Linked DNA regions of Homo sapiens. The protein of the gene in region 1 purifies or fractionates together with the protein of each later gene. This does not show direct contact. Each region holds a gene or a part of one and is shown on either strand. Other genes may lie near its edges.

Region 1 (4,173 bases):
TCAGGAGTTCGAGACCAGCCTGGCCAACATGGTGAAACTCCGTCTCTACTAAAAATACAAAAATTAGCTGGGCATGGTGGCACATGCCTGTAATCCCAGCTACTCGGGAGGCTGAGGCAGGAGAATTGCTTGAACCCGGGAGGTGGAAGTTGTAGTGAGCCGAGATTGTGTCACTGCACTCCAGCCTGGCCGACAGAGCGAGACTGTCTCAAAAAATATATAATTGTGCTAAACTGAAATATACTAAAGAGTTCAGTTTAGCAAGATAAAAGGAACCCTCCAGATATTTCTTAGCCAGTTTGAGAAACAATACCACCTTTGAAAAGCCCTTCGTGTGCCTTATTTACCATTTATTAGATAATTAGAAGTGACTAGACTATTTGGTTTTGGTTTTAATACTGAGCATTACTAGCAGCTGTGATCCTGGCAGGCTATCTCCGAATAATTTTTTTTAAAGTGAAATACAGGCCGGGCACGGCGGCTTATGCCTATAATCCCAGCACTTTGGGAGGCAGAGGCGGGGAGGATCACTTGAGGTCAGGAGTTTGAAACCAGTCTGGCCAACATGGTGAAACCCCGTCGCTACTAAAAATACAAAAATTAGCCGGGCGTGGTGGCCCACGCCTGTAATCCCAGCTACTTGGGAGTCTGAGGCAGGAGAATCGCTTGAATCCGGGAGGCGGAGGTTGCTGTGAGCTGAGATCGCACCACTGCACTCCAGCCTGGGTGACAGAGACTCCGTCTCAAAAACAAAACAGGAACTTAAAACAATGGAACCCATTCACGTTCTTCTATTTGTCTTTAATAATCCTGGGTAATAGTCAACTAATAATCCTGGGTAGTAGTCTGGAGACACTCCTAGCGGAGTTTACTCGGGAGAGGGCGGAGAAATACATGACATGAGCAGTACAGGCTCATGGTTGGGAGCTGAGGGAAGGCTGAGAATCCTCCCGGAACCTCTGGATTCTGACGCCCCAGGGGTTCTTCACACAGGCTGGCCGGTCTCGGGATTGAAGCCGGAGACGTCAGACGCTAAGGTTGCTTAGACTGCGGCCCACGTGGAAGGCTCTTAGCCACCCTGCCTGGCCCGAGGTAATCGCGCTAGGGACGCTTTTTCTGCAGCAATGATATACCCCGCCGAACTGTCCCACGTCCTGGTTGGGACCTCTTGGTTTCGCTTGGCTGGGCTCAATCCATCCGTACGCCTCCGCCCTTCCCTCTTTGCGAACCCCTGCGGGTTCAGCGAATCGGCTGCAAGAAGCCCTGCATCCGCGAGGTAAGCGGCGGTTGGCGGCGGTGCCGGGGTTGGCAGCGCCCGCGGGTTGTCTACGCCGCGGGGCCTACGTCTCTGTCGGGCGTGCACCTCGGGAGCCACACCTGGGGCCCAGAGCCACCGCTCAGCACGCGGGCACGCGGCGGGAGGGAAGGAAACCGCGGCGCTGGGGATGGAGAGGGGGAAAGTGAAGAAGAAAGAGAAGGAAAAGGAGACGCAGGAGGAGAAAATCGGAGAAAAGGGTAGGGAAGAGAAAGTGAAAAGAAAGGAGGTGGAGCAGAAAATTAAACAAAAGCAAGAGAAGCAGGAGAGGAGAAAGGGAAAAGAGAAAGAGGAAAAGAGGACAAAGCAAGGGAAGGAGACAAACAAAGAGAAGGAACAATTTAAGGGACAAGAAGAGAAAGGGGAGAACAAGGACAGCACCTTGACAAGGACCCCGCTCGAGCCGCTGGTAAGAGACCCAGTGCCCAGGACCCCTTGCCCCAAGGCTTTTGTCGGCCGTTCAGACCCCAGCGCTGTCTCTGTTACGTCGGAGGCCCCCGACCGCGTGGGAGCGAATGGATCTCAACTGAGGGCTATTTACCTATGGATGAAAGAGATGCGCCAAACTTTGAACGACCCATCCCCTTTTCCCGGGCCCCCTGCCCACCCTAGCCCTTATCGCTACCCCTGTGTCTTAACCTCAGTCGGGTCTGTTGTTGAGGGACAAGAGATCTCGGTCTTCATGGGGACATGGGGAACGGCCCCTCTACTGCCCTTAGATCTGTCCAGCGCGCAACACTAGCGCACAGACCACCTGACCACATTTAGAAACCAGCCCCGAACCCTCCCCACACGCAGGCCCTCTTTGCATTGAATGCGTTCTTTGTCAGAAGGGGCAGGGTTCCTGAACGCAGGAGGTGTTTGGGGACGCTGCAGTTGTTTTCAGACCACCAGTACCATGAATGGATGGCGGAAAAGTTTTAACTGACAGGTCTTAGAAACTTGGCATTATTTGGGTCAGCTGAATGGTCTCTGTGCTCCTGGAGTTCCTGAGCTGGCTCCTTGGCTTAGAGCTGCGCTCTGGTTCTAAACAATTATGAATGATTAACACAGTTGTGTGTGTGTGTGTGTGTGTGTGTGTGTGTGTGTGTGTGTGTGTGTTCTTTTTTGAGACAGGGTCTTACTCTGCCTCTCAGGCTGGAGGGATCCTCCCACCTCAGCCTGGCACCGCCCCCATCTCCCAACCTCAGTGACTGGCACTACAGGCACACGCCACCATGTCCAGCTAATTTTTGTATTTTTGTGCAGAGCTGGAGTTTCGCCATGTAGCTCAGGCTGATCTCAAACTCCTGGGCTCCAGCAATCCGCCCGCCTCAGCCTCCCAAAGCGCTGGGATTACAGGCGTGAGCCACCACGGATTAACAGAGATTTGATCTCTGGTAAAACACAGACTACATAGACTCATATTTGGCTAAAGGAATAACTTTTGACAAAAACGGTGTTCAGAATCACATTTTGTGTCTGAACTGTTTTACAAATTCAGCTTTCCTTAGGAGAAGGTAAATGTGAGGAAGCCTGAATGCAGAATTTCTAGGTAGGATGGGCGTAGGGACAGCAACGTGGTTGGAAAGGGAACTGATATTTTTGTTTTTGTTTTTTTGAGACAGAGTCTGGCTCTGTCGCCCAGGCTTGAGTACAGTGGCGTGATCTCGGCTCACTGCAACCTCCACCTCCCAGGCTCAAGTCATCCTCCCACCTCAGCCTCCCAAGTAGCTGGGATTACAGGTGCACACCGCCGTGCCTAGCTAATTTCTGTATTTTTGGTAGAGATGGGGTTTCGCCATGTTGCCCAGGCTGGTCTTCAACTCCTGAGCTCAAGCGATCCACCCGCGTTGGCCTCCCAAAGTGCTGGGATTACAGGCATGAGCCACTGTGCCCGGCCTGGGAACTGCTTTTAATTCACACTATTTTATAGGGCCTAAGATGACATTAGTCTAGGTACCACTAAGAAAGAAAAAAAAGCCGGCGCAGTGGCTCACACCTGTAATCCCGGCACTTTGGGAGGCCAAGGTGGGTGGATCACCTGAGGTCAGGAGTTCCAGAACAGCCTAGCCAACATGGCAAAACCCCATCTCTACTAAAAATACAAAAAAAGTAGCTGGGCATGGTGGCATGTGCCTGTAATCCCAGCTACTCGGGAGGCTGAGGCAGGAAAATCGCGTGAACCTGGGAGGCAGAGGTTGTAGTGAGCCAAGATCGTGCCACTGCACTCCACAGAGAGAGATTCTGTATCAAAAAAAAAAAAAAAAAATTCTCCCAATCAAAATGTGACATACTCTCAATTGTCAAAGACATTCTAATTTCAGAGATATTAAAATGTGGAATGTGGGGGGAATATGTATCTTAGAATGAATGAAGTATGTTGGGGTAGGCTGAATAGGGCCTCTGGTGAAGACTGACAGGACACAATCCACTCTTGGCTGCCATTTCTTGGTGCCAGTATTGCTTTAAAACATGCAATTTTAAGCCATCCAATGAAGTCTCCCTTGCCCCTCTTCCTTACCTTGACACACTCTCAGAATGACATCATAACATTTAGATGCAAATGAAGGGAATGGAGAAGAGGCAGGGATGGAAGACATCTATGAAAATACAATTTAGTTTAAGAGCCATCAAAGATTTGCTCCAAGAACAAATACGTACATTTTTTCTTTTTCTTTTTTTTTTGAGACAGAGTTTCACTCATGTTGCCCAGGCTGGAGTGCAATGGCGCGATCTCAGCTCATTGCAACCTCCACCTCCCAGGTTCAAGTGATTGTCCTGCCTTACTTAGCCTCCCCAGTAGCTGGGATTACTGGCATTCGCCACCACGCCCGGCTAATTTTGTATTTTTACTAGAGACCGGATTTCACCATGTT
Region 2 (3,500 bases), on another chromosome or scaffold:
TACGGCACAAGCCAGAAGGGAACCAAACCAGTGAATCCATTTCAAATTATCTTTTTGTGGGATTTAACCCTCTTTCATAAACACCTGCATAAATCCCTGACACTTACACATATACACCCCTATGACCTTCGCATGCCTGTGTCATTCTTTACACTGCTATTAGTCCTATGGAAATTCTCATCACTACTCAGTGTTCTCGTTATTATAAATATGGAATATTATGAATATGTAAATGTTTACTCTAGGATTTGTTTTGTTTTTGTACCATGTAAAAATGAACATATTTCTTACCTTCAGCTATGATAAACATTTTCTATTTGGTCTCATATAACTCTTAAAATTTAATGATGAGGAAGCCAGGCTCAGTGGCTCATGCCTGTGGTCTCAGCTACTCGAGAGGCTAAGGTGGGAGGATTGCTTGATCCCAGGAGGTAGAGGTTGCAGCGAGTTGTGATCGTACCACTGCACTCCAGCCTGGGCAACAGAGTAAGACCTTGTCTCAAAAAAAAAAAGAAAAATTAAGCCAGGCATGGTGGCTCATGCCTGTAATCCCAGCACGTTAAGAGGCTGAGGTGGGCGGATCACGAGGTCAGGAGATCAAGACCATCCTGGCTAACACGGTGAAACCCCATCTCTACTAAAAATACAAAAAATTAGCCGAGCATGTGGTGGCATGTGCCTGTAGTCCCAGCTACTGGGGAGGCTGAGGCAGGAGACTTGCTTGAACCTGGGAGGTGGAGGTTGCAGTGAACCGAGATCGCGCCATTGCACTCCAGCCTGGACGACAGAGCAAGACTCCATCTCAAAAAAAAAATAATAATTATTATTAATCTCAAATCATTAAAATGGATAATTAAAACAGGTGCATTTTATTACATGTACATTGTACCTCAGTAAAATTGAAATTTTTTTAAAAGTTCAAAAATATTAGTGATCAAACCAATTTCTGCATACCTGCTGTAATAAATATTAGGAGATGTGAGACTAACAGTGAAATGGTAATAATTACCTCTGGATATTTTGGTTTATTTCAGGGTGTACCTTCTAATGAAATACTTAACATATTGTCCAGCATTCCTGAAGCTGAAAAATTTGCTAAATTCTGGATCTGCAAAGCAAAGTTGTTGGCAAGTAAAGGCACCTTTGATGTTATTGGGCTATATGAAGAGGCCATTAAAAATGGGGCAACAGTGAGTATCTGTCTTGGGTGGGTAACTTCTTAAAATTCTCTTTCATGTGAGTTCTCTGTTGTTGTTTGTAATATGATGGTTAGAAGTTTGCAACATCAATATCCAACACTTATAAAGTCATACCTTACCATAAAGAACTTAAAAATATATTAAACCCAATACGTCAGCATCCTTAAATCAATAATTCAGAGCCATTGCATGAAATAACTTTTAATTCTAAAATTTAGAAAAAAAAACTATATAATTATTATTTACAAAAACTGCATCAAATAGTTTTATAATGCTTTTCCTTAAAATGTCATTTTCCATGTCATGTTCTGTATTCTGTGTGATACCTTTTTCCATAATGGTTCAAAATCAGAATTGTACATGCACATAGTTTAAGCAGTCAAGTAGTTTGATAAGTTTCGTTCAGTAAGACCTCTGCCTTCCTTCCCTCCCATTTTCCCCTTCCTAGAGCAAACTGATTTATTTTTATATTAACCTCTATAGTTTCAGAAAACGTGTTTCTGTTTCTTGATTTTTCAGTTTTAGATATGATTTATGGACTTCCAGCTATGCAGAGTGAAGATTTAGCCCTCTTTCACACATACATACACAGATCCCCAGCACACACAAATACACACCCCTATTTACCATCCTTATAGACCTTTGCCATTCCTTATACTTTCATTAGAGTCATGGAAATTCTGGTCACTATTTAGCATTCACATTGTTATGAATATATAAGAAATATATGGGCTGGGCACGGTGTTTCACGCCTGTAATCCCAGCACTTGGGGAGGCCGAGGCAGGTGGATCACAAGGTCAGGAGATCGAGACCATTTTGGCTAACATGGTGAAACCCCATCTCTACTAAAAAATACAAAAAAGTTAGCCGGGCGTGGTGGCGGGCACCTGTAGTCCCAGCTACTCGGGAGGCTGAGGCAGGAGAATGGCATGAACCTGGGAGGCAGAGCTTGCAGTGAGCCGAGATCGGGCCACTGCACTCCAGCCTGGGCAACAGTGCAAGACTGTCTCAAAAAAAAAAAAAAATACATGAATATGTTGAGCCATGCAATATATACTATGATTACTTTGCCTTTCAAGCACAACTTTCTACTTTTCCTGGAGTTATTGTCTTGTTTTGCCTTTGCTTAGTTTTCTGAGTATTTATTATATAATTAATTCACAAACTCTTCGCTAATTGTCTAAGTTCCTCAATACTTTGAAAACATCAGATATTCTATTGATTCCTTTTTCTTAGATAAAGAGCTTTCTCCTAGACCCTTCTGGCTTATTCCAGACTGAACAAGTTACTTTTTACTGCCGTCTTCACCAGCTGTCTTTCTGGGATCTCTTTACCATCACCTTTAGATTCCCTTTACATCCTTCTTAAGTTGGGTGGATCCCTTGTTTTTAGAACCCATATTAGTTTTCTTCTTCCTACATTGTCTATTTCTTCTCCAATGTTTTTCATTTCTTTCTCTCTTGTTATTGTTTGTTTGTTCTTTTTGTTTTGTTCTCTATTATTCTTTAAAGGCTTTACACAGATGCTGGTGAAACTGGGCTGTTTGCACATATAAAAGGTGGGTCTGAAAAAGCTTATTTAAAGCCCGAGACACATGGATGGGGCTTCAACACAGGGTGATCTGGCTGAGTTGACTAGTTAGAAAACCCTCAATATCAGTATCTTTAGGTCTTTCCTCTTAAGCTGGTCAAGTTATCTGGAGAAATCTGTTCCAATCTCCTTCCTGGGAGCTAGACACCAGGCTGCCAGTGCTGTGGGAGAGAAGAGAGCAGGGAGTCTCAACCCTCAACATAGAAACTTTTGCTTATCTCCTTTTCTCAGAAAGCACCCTATCCTAATCTTGCATGATATCCCTCAGAGACTTGCAGAATACATTCCCAGTTTTCTGTTAGGATGAAGGGAGTCAGACACAGTTACTAGGCTGCATAGAGTTTAGGGGTGCAGGATGGATTTGGAGGTCTGACTGCTTTTTGAACAGATGCTAAAGAGTCCTCCTAATTTGGGCCCTACCACCCATTCCTTAGCCTTTCTGTCAGGTTGTTTCTTAGCCACACTGCCAGCTTGGGATTCAACTCTCTCAAGTAGATCAAATTGTTTACCTCTCTTCCTTCTGCACTGCAGCTTCCAAAACCTTATTGTCATTTCTTCTCTCCTATGTTTTGTGGTTATTGCCTCTTCTTAATCCCTTTATTATCCTTTCAGTCGATTTTCAAGAGAGATTAGAAATAAACGTATATTTAATCCACCATCATTAACCAGAAGGCTATACAAATATAAAATATGCTTGATGAATGTTGTAT

What was found.
Region 2: the proteins of ARL9 (region 1) and CKAP2L purify together in Homo sapiens (affinity purification with mass spectrometry; one large-scale study listed by BioGRID and IntAct). This does not show direct contact.

What each region holds. Positions count from the first base shown.
Region 1 is NC_000004.12:56,504,418-56,508,590, forward strand, and holds the start of ARL9 (ADP-ribosylation factor-like protein 9), read left to right. Parts: upstream 1-1,373; 5' UTR 1,374-1,445; coding exon 1,446-1,724; intron 1,725-2,115; exon of another isoform or gene 2,116-2,246; intron 2,247-4,173.
Region 2 is NC_000002.12:112,744,110-112,747,609, reverse strand, and holds part of CKAP2L (cytoskeleton-associated protein 2-like), read left to right. Parts: intron 1-1,034; coding exon 1,035-1,190; intron 1,191-3,500. UniProt on the Homo sapiens protein: Microtubule-associated protein required for mitotic spindle formation and cell-cycle progression in neural progenitor cells.